Linked DNA regions of Homo sapiens: region 2 is linked to region 1. A link means that fine-mapping ties the variant in region 1 to the expression of a gene that starts in the linked region. Tissue or cell type: sigmoid colon. Region 1 holds a variant in brackets; the other region holds the start of a gene. All regions are shown on one strand. Distances are between the middles of the regions.

Region 1 (8,107 bases):
GGCAAGTGACTAACTATTGCCCTCAGGGTCAGGATTACAGCTCTGGGCAGCTGGGGGTGATGTGGACTGTTGAGTCCAGGCTGCATCTAAAGAAATAACTGCTTTGGCTGGGCACAGCGGCTCACACCTGTAATCCCAGCACTTTGGGAGGCCAAGGTGGGTGGATCCCCTGAGGTTGGGAGTTCGAGACTAACCTGACCAACCCGGAGAAACCTCCTGTCTACTAAAAATACAAAAAAATTAGCCGGGCATGGTGGCGCATGCCTGTAATCCCAGGTACTCTGGAGGCTGAGGCAGGAGAATCACTTGAACCCAGGAGGCGGAGGTTGCAGTGAGCTGAGATCGCGCCATTGCACTCCAGCCTGGGCAACAAGAGCAAAACTGCATCTTAAAAAAAAAGAAAAAAGAAAAAAAAGAACTGCTTCCCAGCTCAGGCAGAGGTAATTGTCATGATCTTCAGTTTCTCATCTGGAAGCTGAAAATCCAGATTCCATTCAATTTCCTCAATTTTAATGTTGATATTTAATGTTAAAGATATTTTCAAAATCCTGTGCCTGCCAAACAAGACATATCTCTGGCCATATTTATTCCCATCCACCAGCAGCCTGTAACTTCCAAAACCATGGAGAGACCATGCATATAGTGGCTGAGCTGCTGCTCACCCTGTGGGCGTGGGGCAGGAGGCGAACCTGCAGCTCCTCCCACTCCGTCCAGATCTCCCCCTTCAGCTTCTCTGAATCCTAGGCCAGGTGCGTTTGCAGCTTTGTCTATGGTGAAAGGTGGCAGCTTATCCTGTAGACACCTGTGTCGTCGAGGTTGGGGGTGGTGAGAGACAGGCGTGGGTTTCGTTTTATTCTCTGGGGTTCCAATTTGTCTCTGCAGATTCTAATTTGTTCTTTTTCTTTACTTCCTCTCCATCTTTACTTCCCAATTGCTGGCCCTACGGACTTTGGGTCTAACATCTGGTGCAGAAGAAATAGCCTTACTAGACAGCTTACCTGGCTTCCAGGTATAAGCTTAATCTCTGCAATAAACCCTTTATTCTATATCACTCAGAATGGTTCTGCTTCTCTGATGAAACCTGACTGATACAGAATTTGGTTGCTACCTCCTTATATGAGAGGCAAGGAACCTGGATTGCAGATAGGGACAATAACTCTAGGTCCTACAGTTACTTAGTGACAGTCCTGGGAATTGAATCCAGGGTTCCCCTCATCTCTGCTTTTTACTTTTTCCCCTGTGTTTAAAGAAGTTGATTCTCACCTTTGTATAATCTTTTTTTATTTTTTTGCGACAGAGTTTCACTCTTGTTGCCCAGGCTGGAGTACAGTGGCACAACCTTGGCTCACTGCAACCTCTGTCTCCTGGGTTCAAGTGATTCTCCTGCCTCAGCCTCCAAGTAGCTAGGACTGCAGGTGCGTGCCACCACACCCAGCTAATTTTTGTATGTTTAGTAGAGATGGGGTTTCACCATGTTGGCCAGGCTGGTCTTGACCCCCTGACCTCAGGTGATACATCCACCTCGGCCTCTCAAAGAGCTGGGATTACAGGTGTGAGCCACCATGCCTGGCCACCTTTGTATAATCTTTAAAGCATCTTTTCCATAAAATGTCCCCCACCATTCAAATAACAGCTGAGTCCTGCTAAGTCTCCTTTGATCATAGCTCTGTAAGCCACTCCTTCCTCATTTGGTCCTCTGCAGGTTTTGTAAGCCACATGTACATCGTTCACGTTTCATCCAGAGTTCTGGGAAAGAGTAGGTGGTTCCCAGAAACAATGTGAGTTCATGAGTCTTTCTAAGAAGAAGGGAAGAAAGTTTTTGTCAAGGCCACAATGTATAGACCTTGTGCTAAGCACTGATTTATAAATAATCCAGATAGGAGTAAGAAAATGAAATGAAGTCTCCTTGAGGTGAATTTTCCTCCAGTTGATAGTAGTAGAAAGCTATTATGGGCTGAAAATATATCTCCCCCACCATTCATGTTGAGGTCCTAATTCCCAGCACCTCAGAATGTTACTGTATTTGGAGATAGCCTTTGATACGGTTTGGCTCTGTGTCCCCATCCAAATCTCATCTCAAATTGTAATTCTCACGTGCTGAGGGAGGGAGGTGATTGAATCATGGAGGTGATTTCCCCCATGCTGTTCTAGTGATAGTGAGTTTGTTCCTATGAGATTTGATGGTTTTATAAGTGTTTGGAAGTTCCTCCTTCATTCTCTCTCCTACCACTGTGTGTGGAAGATGCTTGCTTCCCCTTTGCCTTTGCCAGGATTGGGTTTCCTGAAGCCTCCCCAGCCATGTTGGAACTGTGAGTCAATTAAACCTCTTTCCTTGATAAATTACCCAGTCTCGGGTATTTCATTATAGCCGTGTGAAAACAGACTAATACAGCTTTTACAGAGGTGATGATGTTAAATGAAGTTATTAGGGTGTGCTCTAATCAATATGACCATCTTATAAGGACCAAGTGTCCTTATAAGAAGAGAAAATTTGGACACAGACATGTGAAGAGGAAGATGACATGAAGACACAAGGAGAAAATGGCCATTTGCAAGTCTTTTTCCAGGAGAGAGGCCTGGAACAGGTCCTTTCCTCACAGCCCTCAAAAGGAACCAACCACGCTCACACCTTGATTTCAGATTTCTGGCTTTCAGAACTGTAAGAAAATAAATTTGTTTAAGCCACTCAGTCTGTGGTACTTTGTTATGGAAGTCCTAGTAAACTATTACAAAACCCCAGATTGAAATTCAATTCTGTGTGACTGTAAAATATATATTATTTTTATTATACCATGATAAGGGGTAGGACAAAAAAAAAAAAACAAAACTAGGTCTCGGCTGTTGTTATTGAGAAGGAAAATGCAGAGAAAAGAGAAGTTTTAAGAAAATGCTGCATTTATATAGATTGACTTAAAGAAAGGAGAAACTTTCTTTCTCCTAGTGCTAGTACTACTATTAATTTACTTTAATTAAGTGCTGACTACACACCATAAACTGTACTTAGTATTTTACAAATATTCAGTAATTACTTGCAACAACCCTGTGAATGATTCTCTTTTAAAGAGAAAAGTACTGTCTTTATTTTACTGATGAAGAAACTAAAGCTTAGGGAGAAGTAATTTGCCCAACTTAATGGGAAGATCCAATCTGGGGCTTAATATCTGTCAGTCTCTGACTTCAGACCCCATGTTCTCAATCATTATTCTACTCTGGCTTTATTTCAACACAATGCTTGGAGTTTACATTTGCTTGTCTTTCCAATCCAACCATCAGCTTTGTAAGAGTTGAACGGTTTTGATGGTATTTGATGATCTGCTAATGGATGCTATAACACACCTCCCTTGTGGTAAATTCTACCATCTTTGAAACAAAATGGCACCTAACATAGGTTTTTCCAATGATTGTCGTTCCTGCAGTTTTTCTAGAACTTGAGTTATAGAGGGGACCTGTTGGTAGAAGAATTACATGGATTGAAATTTTCAAGTCACAGAACCAATAATTAGGAAGAAGGAAAGACATAAGAAAAAAGGGAAATTTGTTCAGCTAACAAAGCCAGTTTAATCAAGTGTAGAATTTAAATTCCTAGCCCCTGCTTAGACTATCCAGTATTCAAATTTGAAAGAATTTGTTTTTGGAAGCCTTTATAAAACTCTTCACTGTTACAATGTATGCCATCTGGGATTTAGCATTTATAAAATGTGCAGTTAAGAGATGCCAAGAGATTCCTCATGCAAACCAGATGGTACAATAACAGCTCTGTCTTTAGTTTTCTGCCAGAAAAATAGGCCTTTGAATGGCTTGAAACTTATATGAATAAATTAAGCTCAACCAATACTTCAGGGACATTACAATTTCAATAGGCAACTTATCCACTTAAATATTTTTATAAATGTTTTCATTTAGAAAAGAAGAAACAAAAAGGCAGACAATGATTCTTTTTGATTGTTAAAGAATACAAACATGATACAATGCTTTTAAGGAAAACATCAATGACTTTCAATGTGGGAAAGAAAGTTTCTCCTTATTTTGACAGTGTTATATGTGTTT[GTTTA/G]TTTATTTTTTGAGACGGAGTTTTGCTCTTGTCGCCCAGGCTGGAGTGCAATGGCACAATCTCGGCTTGCTGCAACCTCTGCCTCCCAGGTTCAAGTGATTCTTCTGCCTCAGCCTCCCAAGTAGCTGGGACTACAGGCATATGCCACCACGCCCAGCTAATTTTTGTATTTTTAGTAGACACGGGGTTTCACCATGTTGGCCAGGCTAGTCGATGAATGTGTTTAAGTTAGAAGTGAAGTTGTTGAAATTTCTTCCGAATAGGAGAAATCCATATCAAATAGGTTGAACAGTTGTATCATTGTGCTAAAGAGAAAAGAATACACATGTAAGTGACATTTTCTGGATAATATATTTGAGCACATCTTTACCTTAACAGATAGTCTCTCATAAACCCAAGGGCAGTGCATACAGCAGTGTGTTACTGATGGCTTCTTTTGTCCTTGCCTGGTTCCTGCAAGTTTTCTATGGAACAACAGGACTTTTGTATTACTCTCTAATTTCCCTTACTTTGTTACTGTTTTTATTTTCATTAAAATTCATAATAAGATCCTCATTAGATGAAGTAATCTTGTTAAAAGCAGTGTTCTACTCTGATCTTTTTCCTTCTTATGTAAAAAAAAAAAATGTGCTTCCCTACCATACAAGTGAATTTCTTCTCTAATTAGACATGAATAGCTTTAGAGATCAAACACAGGCTGCTTTTGAAAACCAGATCTCTTAGGACACAGGGGCAATCTCATTACTGAAAATATGTGTTTCTGGGTTGCACAAGCCATTGAATTTCTTTCCCAATTAGCAGCAAATGGTTTTTCAGAACAATGAGGAAGAAGTTTGGTTTGTACTTTGCAAGTGTTGTTTTTTTCTTGGAGTTAGACTGGAAGTATCAACTACCATCATCTCTGTCCCTTCTTTTCCTCTCCCTGAGCAAAGGAACACACATGACTCTGTTTTATAGATAGTCAGAGTTCCAGGTAAATTCTTCATCCAAATGCTACTTCCTCTGGGCCAGGATTGGACTCCATGGTAGAAGGAACACCTATTTAAGACTACCTAGTTGTCAGCTACTGTCAGCTGTTATGATGTTAGGGGAGACTGCAAAATCATAAACACAGCAATGAGAAGCTGACAATGTCCTTGCTCTGGGGGGAGGAGGGGAACCATTCATGAGAGAATCTCTCCAAGTGCTGCCCCTAGAAGCAGATTAACCATGTTTTCTCTGGGTCTTTGGCAAAAAAGAAGTGGTGTCTGTGGAGAAGGGCTTCTTATCATTAAATAACCAACTGCTTGGGGTTCCAGATAATAGGTTGAGGTTCTAGAGTTTTAGGACAGTGCAGGAGGAAATAAGACCTGCCTGTCTAAACCTAAGTGTCAGTCAGAGTCAAGGGAACACAGAGGTCATGGACAGGATGTTTCTCTAAGTTGAGACATACTAGTAGTGCAGGAGTATGGGGAGATATGAGGAGCATGGCGAGGCTCCAACAGGAAGGTTGATGAGAGCTTTGACTTGGGGTCACTGCCACTCAGGTCCGAGCCTCAAAGTCTCTCCAGTGTGTGTCTGGCAAATATTCTTCTCTGGCCTTCCAAGAGTCCAGCTGTATGCTGATGGAACACGCTCAAATACTAATTTCCACAAGATCAGTACAGTCAAGAAAATCCACAACTGCCCCCACAATTACCATGACTCCTCACAAGGAATTAATGTCTACATTATATGCAAATTCGTGTTAGCTCTTTTTATTAATTTCTGCCCTTACCATCTCCCACCAATTTTGTTTCCTTTGGGCTTTGAGGAATTCAAAAATGATTACTGGGCTAAAACTTCCTCTGTCTGTTCCCTAAGCCACAATCACACTACTTCTAGTTTGTAAAAACATGCTTTATGGGTTGCAAGAAATTTTATTTCTTCATCTTTACTAAAGTTAGTTGATGCTGATGATAATGATGATATGATCACTAGCAACATCCCCCAGTTTTATCCACAAGGATATGGAGACTCAAATAGATGGAGTAACTTTTCCTGGATTATATGAACGCTAGGTCTTCAACCCTCCTTCCCAACCTCACCTTGAAGGGATAGGATAAGGAGGATCTTCAAGTTCAGAAAAATGTTTTAAATCCTTATCTCTGCCCCCACTTCCCCACCCCCCGCTGCCCCTGCCACCCCATTCTTCTCCCAAGGAGGAAATTTTCCCAAGGGCGTGCCAGAGGATGCCAGGATATTTACCATTTAAGAAAGTTTGGTTATTTCGCCATTTCACAGGAGACTTTAAGTTCTAGTCCTAAGGACTGCTGGAACTGAGAAATTCTTTCTCTTTCTTGTCTTCTATCTCCAATCCTTCTTCCCCATCTCTATAATTATTCTGTCCTCTTTACCCTTTGCCTCCATCCTGTGAAACTTAATCACGCAAATTGCATCATTCTTGTTATACCCAACTAAATCAGGGTTGAGAGGCTGGGTGGTGGAGTTGGGGGAGAAAGCACTCCGAGTACAAAAAATAAATAAATAAATAAAAATTGCTCCAAGAACGTAATTCTCAGCAAGACTGACTGCTGGAACTGCCTGCTGTAACCCGGGAGCAGTTTTATTTACAGCTGCTGAGATAACTTGCTGCAACTCTAGGACAAATTTTGCCCACTAATCAGAGCTTGCCAGCTCCCCAAACCCTTACTAGTGCCAATGAACTTTCTTGAAGAGCAATATGTAACATTTCTCTTGTTAATAAAACCTCTAAACTTCTCTTTTCTTCTTCAGACATACTGAAGACCACCTGGTCTATGTGTGTATCCCAAATTGCAAGTCTTTTTCCAAATAAAACATTAAATTTAGAGATTCAGCTCTAAATTTTTATTTTGACTTTGACAATCCTCATCCTAATTTGGCTTATGACCATCCTAGTGGCCACTATTCTTCTCTTTCTCTTCCTCTTCCTCATCCTTATCTTCTGAAAGCAGACCCTTTGGCTGGAGTCTTAGGATTCTACTACAAATAATACATCTTTGAGAAGTTCTCTATCGGTTATATGTATTTTTATTTTTTATTTTTTTTGCACTCTGTCACCCAGGCTGGAGTGCAGTGGTGTGATCTTGGCTCACTGCAACCTCAGCCTCCCAGGCTCAATCAATTCTCCTGCCTCAGCCTCATGAGTAGCTGGGCTTACAGGTGTGCACCACCATGCCCAGATAATTTTTGTATTTTAGTAGAGATGGGGTTTTGCCATGTTGGCCAAGTGGGTCTTCAACTCCCGACCTCAAGTGATTCACCCACCTTTGCCTCCCAAAGTGCTAGGATTATAGGCGTGAGCCACCTCGCCTGACCTGTTTTTAAATTTCAAAGTGCATTAATGAATGCAGTTGTATCTAAATTAAAGTGGCTCATGCAAAACTTGATGAAGAACCTTACCATTTTCTCACAGTATTCATAATCATGTTTGGATATGTCACTCTCTCTGGGCTAAAAACAATGTTTAAAAAAAGCTAAATAATGCTGCCCTCCAGGCTGCTTCTACTGCTCTTCACCTAGAAGCCAGAAAAAGGAACAAACAGTGACCTTTGGAGCTCATTATTATTGTGAAGAAACTGTAGATGAAAGCTTTGTACTTTTTCTGAGTGGGTAAATAATTTATCTTGGAATAAAAACTTAGACAAAAAGAGATAAGAGGAATATACAGTTACAGGCTTCAAAAATAGATATTTCTCACATCAGTTTAGTGGACAATTATCTAAATATATTAAAGATTGTGTAACAATATGGGGATATATTTATGATGGATTAAGGAGTGGAAAAGATGTAATGTAAAATTATATGTATTTGATGAAAACAATGTAAAAAATACACCACAGGAGAACATATGCATAGTTGATGAGTTATGTAAGGATGGCGGTTTCTAATTTAGTTGCAGTGTCTTCAGAGAACACGGTTTGCATGAACCCTGTTATTTGTTATTTGTCGAGAACTGCACTGCTTCTATTCAGTGGTCAGGTTTTATAAATATTCTGTGTGCTTAGAAAAAACATGCATTTACTATTGGGCACAGGGTCCTTTCTCCATGTGACT
Region 2 (8,107 bases), 51 kb after region 1:
TGGGAACATCATCACCCCCATTGCTTACTGTTCCCTCTGCCTGGAGTGCCCCTCCGTGTTTTTGCATGGTTCGCTAACTCACTGCTTTCAGCTTTGACTCAAATGTCACCTTCTCAGGGAGGCCTTTCTTGGATAATGTAAAATGTGACAGCTTCTCCAATACTCTCACTTCTGCTTTATCTTCACCTAACATGTTATGTGGCTTTTTGGATTATTGTTGGTTTTATTTTTTAGCAAATTCTAAGCACGCTATTAATCATTTATTAATATGTACTAATTATTTAATTACATATTATTTATTACTATTTAACACATTATTAAACTCAACAGATGTTTTTGTTTGTTTTGTTTTGTTTCCTTTTTGTTTTGTTTTTTAAGACACTCACTCTTTTGCCCAGGCTAGAGTGCAGTGGCTCGATCTGGGCTCATTGCAACCTCTGCCTCCTGAGTTCAAACGTTTCTCCTGCCTCACTCTCCCGGGTAGCTGAGATTATAGGCGCCCACCACCACGACCAGCTAATTTTTGTGTTTTTACAAGAGACGAGGTTTCACCATGTTGACCAGGCTGGTCTCCAACTCCTGAGCTCAAGTGATACGCCTGCCTCAGCCTCCCAAAATGTTGGGATTACAGGCGTGAGCCACTGTACCCAGCCTGTGTTTTCCTTTTTATTGGTATTGTCTACCTCCCCTGTGTGTGCCCCTCTGTTTTTCTCACTGCCATTTCCCTAACATTTAGAACAGTGCCTGACACATGATAGAAGCCCAGTCAATACTTGTCGAATGAATACAGGGATCTGGCTTGGATATGTTCAGTTCACTCAGCCTCTTGTGTAGTACTAGCTTTGGTCTATGGGACAATTATACTGTCTTACCAGGGGCAATGTGGTACAGGGACAAGAAGCCAGTCCTGGAAGCCAGAGAGGTCAAGTATTAAATTCTTACTCTAGCACTTATTAGCTGTGTGATCCTGGGCAATTCACAGAAGCTCTCTGAGCCATATTCCTTGACCTGGAAGGTGGAGAGAATTTCTCATTTCGATTCTTCAAGACTGATGGGAAGATTGAGAATTATGCACATAAGGTACTTGAAATCTGGTCATGCACACTAATTGGTAGCTAATAATTTCGTGAATTACTGATATATCTGACATCTGGAGTTCCAGCTATGTCCAACAGGAAACCAAAATAAGTTCCCCACTTCTCCTTTAGTCTCTCAAGATTGAGACACCAGACCCCACTTGACAGCTCACCTTAATGGTACAGCCAGCCATTCATCTTACCTTGGTGGCAATGGCAGAAACTGCAGCTGTTCTCTTTGCAGTTATGACATTTCCATCCATGACCTTGGAGGAAAAGAGAGACAGTGAGCAAGGGGAACCCCTGTCCACTGCATAAATTAGAAGAAACAGTTCTAAAATATTAGCTTAGGAAGTTTTATAGCATCCTACAAACAGCATGGGTTTGGCGTCAGACCTGGATCCGATTCCTCCACTTACGAGATATGCAACTTTGAACAAACACTTTAATCTTTAAGCACTGGTTTCCTCACCTGTAAAAAAGATAATGCCAGCCATTCAGAGGGTTATTGTGAGGATTAAATGCACTGGCATATCTGGAAACATCTAGCACATGGTGAGCCCTCAAGAACTGCCCATTTTCTTTTCTTGCCCTAGGATTCTCAAAACACCAAATTAAGAAGGAACTAGAGAGAGAAGGTTGCCAATTGACATCTGGACAACGGCCATGAAACTCTTAGTGGCTCTCCGTTCCTGCTGCACATGTGGAAAGCTTCGTGAAGATGCTCAGATACCACCCTTAGATTAACCCAGTCTGTATCTCTTCCAGGAGTGAGACCCAGACAGCCCAGGTGATTCCGATACACAGCGAAGGTTGAAAATTATGCCTCGCTAGTAAAAACCATCCTCTGCACTCCTCTCCCTGTTATTCATCTCAGCTGATCATCAAAAAATAGGCATCATCAACCTCATTTTACAGATGAGGAAGTGAATCACGAAGTCACTGAGCAGATTCAGCTGTCATCTAGTTTCAAAGCCTTGGGTTCTACCCCCCTAGGGAACCGCTGTTGGCAGGTAGTATGAATGCCATCTCGGTTGGATGAGTGTAAGTTGGGGAAAGCTAGATATTCTCAAAGGAGTGTTAAACGGCCAGATTATTTGGCGATCCAGAAATTCAGGGGAAAAGGAGGGACATTGTAAGACCCAGCTTGGAGCGCACAGACCTTAAGAGTTAACTGTCACACCTGGGAGTGATTCTTGAGTCTTTCACTAACCAGATGTGTGACCTCAAGCAAAGTGACTCTACTAACCTGAGCCTCAAGGACCTCAACAGAAATTGGGGGGAAGGGGAGTTAATAAAAACACCCATAGAGGAATTTTGCAGAATTGAATGTGATCAGCGTCTCCTTCTTGGCACATAAGTGCCCAATATGTAGCAGTTAAAATGGCGGTGGTCTTAGAAGAGTCTGGACCTATGGACCGTGGACTTAGACTGAGCAGCTCTGAAGTCCAACCATGCTAATTGTTGGTTACATAAACCTCGGTAAGTTGAACATAGTTGCTCTGACTCGGTTTCCTCATCTATAAAGTGGGAGTAATCATATTACCCATATCATAGAATAGTTTTAAGTATTAAGAGGATTAATAAATGTGAAATGTTTAGAAAAGTGCCTGATGCATTATAAAAAGTACTCCATAAACACAAGCTACTGCTACCTTTTGAAACTATGATTAGATATTAAAACAGGTCACACCGTATACCCCTCTGAAGACTCCCAGGGATTATAGAACACCCCTTCTTTTCCATGTCGACAAGGATTCAGTAAGTAAGTCTTCCCTTGGCTAATGGGTTCATTCAAGCTGCGTATTTGGGGCAACTGAGTATAGGACAAGGACATATGCAAGAATGACAACAAGATTATTATTTCCACACTGTCACATGCTTGAGGCAGCAGTGGGCGCTGGTGCCGTGTTATGCATCCTCAGGCAGTCCTAGAAATAGATACATGGACACAGATAACCTTCACTGTTGCTGGTATCCAGTCACTTGCAGAGGGGCACGCGTAGTCACAATCAAGACTCCCCCTGCTGCGGAGAACTTACTTTTGAGCTTCAATCTGGGCCCAGGGGCCCCATTCCACCCCGGGACAGGAAGTTGCTCACCGCCAGCAGGGTGCCATTGCTGGGCTCAAAGAGTAGCACAGTAGCCTGGTGGGAAGGGACGACCGAGGTGATGCCGCGGTCCTCGTAGAAGGTGACCAACTTGGTGGTCAGTGCATCCTCTGCAGCACTGTAGGCGGGCATGACCCCCAGGTAGCTACAAGGAGAGAGGGAGCAGCTTCAGCCCCTTCCCATCAATGCTGGGGTCTCTTAGAAAGTATCCATATACTTTCCTTTTTCTTTCCTTCCTCACCACCCCACTGGCCCTCTTCCAGCCCCCGCATCCCTCTGCCCTTCCCTTAGACACTATGCACAGTATGTTCAGAAGTCTGGCTCTGGATCAGAAAACCTTTCCAGCTCTGCCACTTAGTAGCTGTGTAAGCTTAGGTAAGTCACTTAACCTCTCTGAGTCTCAGTTTTCCACCAATCAAATGGTGGTATCAATACCTCCCTAGGTGGAGAGTGTGCTGAAATAAACAAGGTAACACCTGTAAAACGCCCACTTAGCACACCGGGTAGCGCCTATTAAAAGTGGCAGCTGTTAGCAACGGTTAGGCAAGCCGTCTCTTCCCTTCTCCCACCCCTCCTCTTCCTGCTCCTCCTTTCCCCGCTTTCCAGTTTCTCCTGCCCCTGACCCCGACCCTCCTCACTCACCCCCTGTGCTTGGTCACCGGCACCACGGTGCGCACGGGCTGCATGACCCCTCCTTCGGGACCGCTGGAGAAGTTGGCCAGGGCCGTCTCTAGAGGCGGGATGAGGAGGCTGGAGCTGCGGAGGTGTTCCTCCACCTCGGCCGCGCTCAGGAACGCTGGTACCCGGCTCATCTCGCCACCTGTGCCTTCTAACCTCAGTCTCCGCACCGCGATCCACGTACCCTCGGCTGTGCCCTTTATGAGCGCGCCCGCTGCTCTGTGGAGCCGCCTGCTGGTCACAGCCCAGCCTCCGGGGGCGGAGCAACCCCGCCCCGCCCCGCCAGCCCTCTCCTCCCCCTTCGCCCACCTCGACCCCTAAGGGTGGGCGAGATGGGTCCCTTCCAGCAACGGATTCCCCAAGATGGACATCGCGGTGGCGTGCTGGGAGTCAATATTGTTTGGTCCACTTTCTCAGTTCCTGTAATCAGCTGTAGCCACATTCCTTGACTTTTGCTTCCTACATAACCCCTCCCTATTAACTCGCTTTTTGCTGCTGTCTAGGTCACCGTGCCTGGGAAAGAATGGACAGGGAAAACGCTAACGGGGCTCCTTTATTTATTAAATTACTGCCTACTGCTAGGAGATAAAAGGAGACGGAGGCTTATTTAATTTTTTTTTCCTTTTAATTCTGTCCCCGTCTAGAGTCTCTTATCCTAGTCTTCCTCCCCCCTGTACCCCCAGATGTCTGGCCTTTGATTGCTAAGAACGCACAGTTTTCTCACAGGCTAACTAACCTAACAAACCTTCGCCTTTAAAGGGGGGAAGTTTGCAGGGCAAGGTGTAATCTTTTCCATCTCACAAAAAGCCAAATTGCAGGATCTTTTCTTCCAGGAGTTTTTACCTGAGATGGGGAAATAAAATCGGAAAGGAATGATGTAAAGCTTAAGGCAATAAATCCTAGTCATCAAATCAGTGATAGGAAAAGTAAGTTAATTCAAAGAAAAGAGAGATGATTTTGACCTGGAGTGGTTAGATAAGGGCTTCATGAAAGAGTGGGGAGAAACCAAGGTCTGAAATAATAATAGTGACGACAACAATGATAACATCAGGTTATTGATCTTTACTATGTACCAGATACTGCACCATGCACTTTATGTATATTATCTCATTTAATTATACAACAACCTCTAAGGTAGGGAGGTGTTGTTATTAGTTTTACTGTCCATTGGAGGCTCTGAGAAGGGAAGAAATTTAGTTCAAGGTCATCCACCAAGTCAGCAGAGGAGCTGGCTTTGCCCATGGTTGGACTTCAGAATTATATTCCTAATCATTAAGCTACTTTGGCAGAAAGAGAGGAAGAGGGCATTACAGGCCAAGTAAAGCCCTGAGGTGGAAGGCATGTTGAATAGCTCTGGGAACAGTGAGTTGCCAGATGTGTTAGGCTGGAATAAGGTGCTGAGGTCTAGGAGCATCAGAAGATAAAACTGAGAACGATTCTTGGAGTCAGGCAGCTGAGAATGGTGATTCCTAGGAAAGAAATTACATGCTCCAAGAGAGTAAGCATTTAGAAAGATGGGTCTTCTGCCAATGCAAAGGATGGAACAGATGAGCGAGAGCAGAGCCTGGGAGAAGGTCAAGAGGCAGGACTGCTGAAGTTGTGCTTTGTGGTATTTTGGTTGGAAGCTACATAGGGCATTTTGTAGGAAATGGTCACATCATGATAAAAGACAGTGGATGAGTAAGTGTCAAAATCAGTACCAATGAAATGAGAAATTGTACATAATGTGTTTAGCAACAGTGCTTGGCACAGAGTAGCCATGTAATAAGTGAACACTGAGAGAGAAAGAGAGAGAGAGAGAAGACACTGGTGGTTGGGAAAAGCTGATTTCAATGACACAATTTTGTTTCTTCGGTTCACCATCCCTAGAAATTTATGCCCAGAGCCGCTGGGCTTATAGAAATGTTTCTGGCCCATCACGTGTGCTGTTAGCATTAATATTACATCACATTTATTGGGTTTAGAAAGCACAGACATATAGCCCTGGCATGATAGTTCACGCCTGTAATCCTAGCACTTTGGGAGGCCCAAGTGGGTGGATTACCTGAGGTGAGGAGTTCGAGACCAGCCTGGCCAACATGGTAAAATCTTCTCTCTACTAAAAATACAAAAATTAGCTGGGTGTGGTGGCGGGTGCCTGTAATCCCAGCTACCCAGGAGGCTGAGGCAGGAGAATTGCTGGAACCCGGGAGATGGAGGCTGCAATGAGCCAAGATTGCACCACTGCACTCCAGCCTGTGTGACACAGTAAGACTTTTTTGGCCCTTTGTTTTTGTGAATGTGAACTAAAAATAAAATCCTATGCCCCCCACCTACTGAATGAACCCCCTCTGGGCCAAGCAGACCCCAGAAAAACCTTAAAGACTTAGTTTCCAGCCATGATGGGATGGCAAATCAGATATGCCTCATTACATCCTCTCCCTTTTAGAGTTTAGACACAACTGAGCAGCCTTAATGTTAATACAGAGATCACAAGACTGACAGAACAGACTCTTTGTGGCAATACGATAACAAATTATAAACAGGATCTAAGGCCATGCCAGGAAGGGTTAAGTCACGCACCCTTACACTTAAAGAAAAAAGCTATGTTCTAACTGCCACAGAGTTTTTGTTTTCTCCAGCAGCTAAACAAGCACTGGCTTGAAGATAAGCAATATTTTTGTTTTTGTTTTCCCCAGCCCTGCTCAGAGAAGATAGGGAACATGGCTTGGGCACAGTGGCTCACACCTGTAATCCCAGCACTTTGGGAGGCCAAGGCGGGCGGATCATGTGAGGTCAGGAGTTTGAGACCAGCCTGGCCAACGTGATGAAACCCCATCTCTACAAAAAGTACAAAAATTAGCCAGGTGTGGTAGCATGTGCCTGTAATCCCAGCTACTCAGGAGGCTGAGGCAGGAGAATTGCTTGAACCAGGGAGGTGGAGGTTGCAGTGAGCCGAGATCGTGCCACTGCACTCCAGCCTGGACAACAGAGTGATTCTCTCTCTCTCTCACTCTCTCTCTCTCTCTCTCTCTCTCTGTATATATATATATACACAAACATATATGTATATACATATATACGTATCTATGTATCTATATAGATATGTATATGTATCTATGTATCTATATAGATATGTATATATGTGCATATATATATATATAAATTTTTTTTTTGAAACAAAGTCCCTCTCTGTCACCCAGACTGGAGTGCAGTGGCATGATCTCAAGTGATTCTCCTGCCTCAGCCTCTCAGGTAGCTGGGATTACAGGTGCATGCCACCACCCCCGGCTAATTTTTGTACTTTCAGTAGAGATGGGGTTTTGTCATGTTGGCCAGGCTGGTCTCGGTCTCGAACTCCTGACCTGAGATGATCCACCCGCCTTGGCCTCCCAAAGTGCTGGGATTACAGGCATGAGCCACCGTGCCCGGCTGAAGATATGCAATATTAAAACAATTACAACTCATCCAAATCACAGATATTGACTAACCGACCCCTTGTTCCACCAGCCATAACTACAGCTTGATTGGACAAGAGACTGATTTCAGTAACTTTCTCCTGATAAGACTACCGACTATAGGATGGTTCTGGCTGACTTACAGAGGTTGCACACTTGCATGCCTTCATGTCCTGAAAAGACCTTTTGACGTATCAGGCTGAATTGTAATACATTTAAATGCTGCAACCACCCCAAAATGAACATGAGTTGTATGTAACATGCATGTTTGTTAAATACACATGCATCAGGACCACTTTCATGAATATTCATAGCTTCTTCTCTCACCTGTTGAATATGTATATTTAGCCAACCTGTTGAGCATAAAGCTCCTACCCCAACCCTCCTCCTTCAAAGTGCCTGTCTCTGATCTTGGCCAAGGCATGTGATATGGTTTGGCTCCATGTCCACACCCAAATCTCTTCTTATAGCTCCCATAATTCCCACATCTTGTGGGAGGGACCCAGTGGGAGATGACTGAATCATGGAGGCGGGTCTTTCCCCTGCGGTTCTGATGATAGTGAATGAGTCTCACGAGATCTGATGGTTTTAAAAATGGGAGTTGCCCTGCACAAGCTCTCTCTTTGCTATTGCCCTCCATGTAAGATGTGACTTGTTCCTCCTTGCCTTCCACTATGATTGTGAGGCCTCCCCAGCCATGTGGAACTGTAAATCCAATAAGCCTCTTTCTTCTGTAAATTGCCCAGTCTCAGGCATGTGTTTATAGACAGCATGAAAACGGAATAATACAGCGTGCTTCCCAGCA

What was found. PIP is the estimated chance that this variant, and not a neighbour inherited with it, causes the effect.
Region 2: it holds the start of CRYM, and the variant in region 1 is fine-mapped to the expression of CRYM in sigmoid colon (GTEx, PIP above 0.99). The same link has a PIP of 0.9 or more in putamen.

The regions. Positions count from the first base shown.
Region 1 is chr16:21,223,230-21,231,336 of GRCh38, forward strand. LOC105371123 (a long non-coding RNA gene) reads right to left here. Exons shown (of 2, transcript XR_001752344.2): 2 at 3,535-4,356. Among named protein-coding and RNA genes, the nearest start is that of ANKS4B, 6.4 kb to the right of the region's middle. The variant GTTTA/G (reference allele first, on the strand shown) is at 4,048.
Region 2 is chr16:21,274,253-21,282,359 of GRCh38, forward strand. CRYM (crystallin mu) reads right to left here and starts at 4,038. Exons shown (of 8, transcript NM_001376256.1): 1 at 3,830-4,038; 2 at 3,179-3,332; 3 at 1,280-1,342. The coding sequence starts at 3,999. RefSeq lists an enhancer at 3,830-4,039.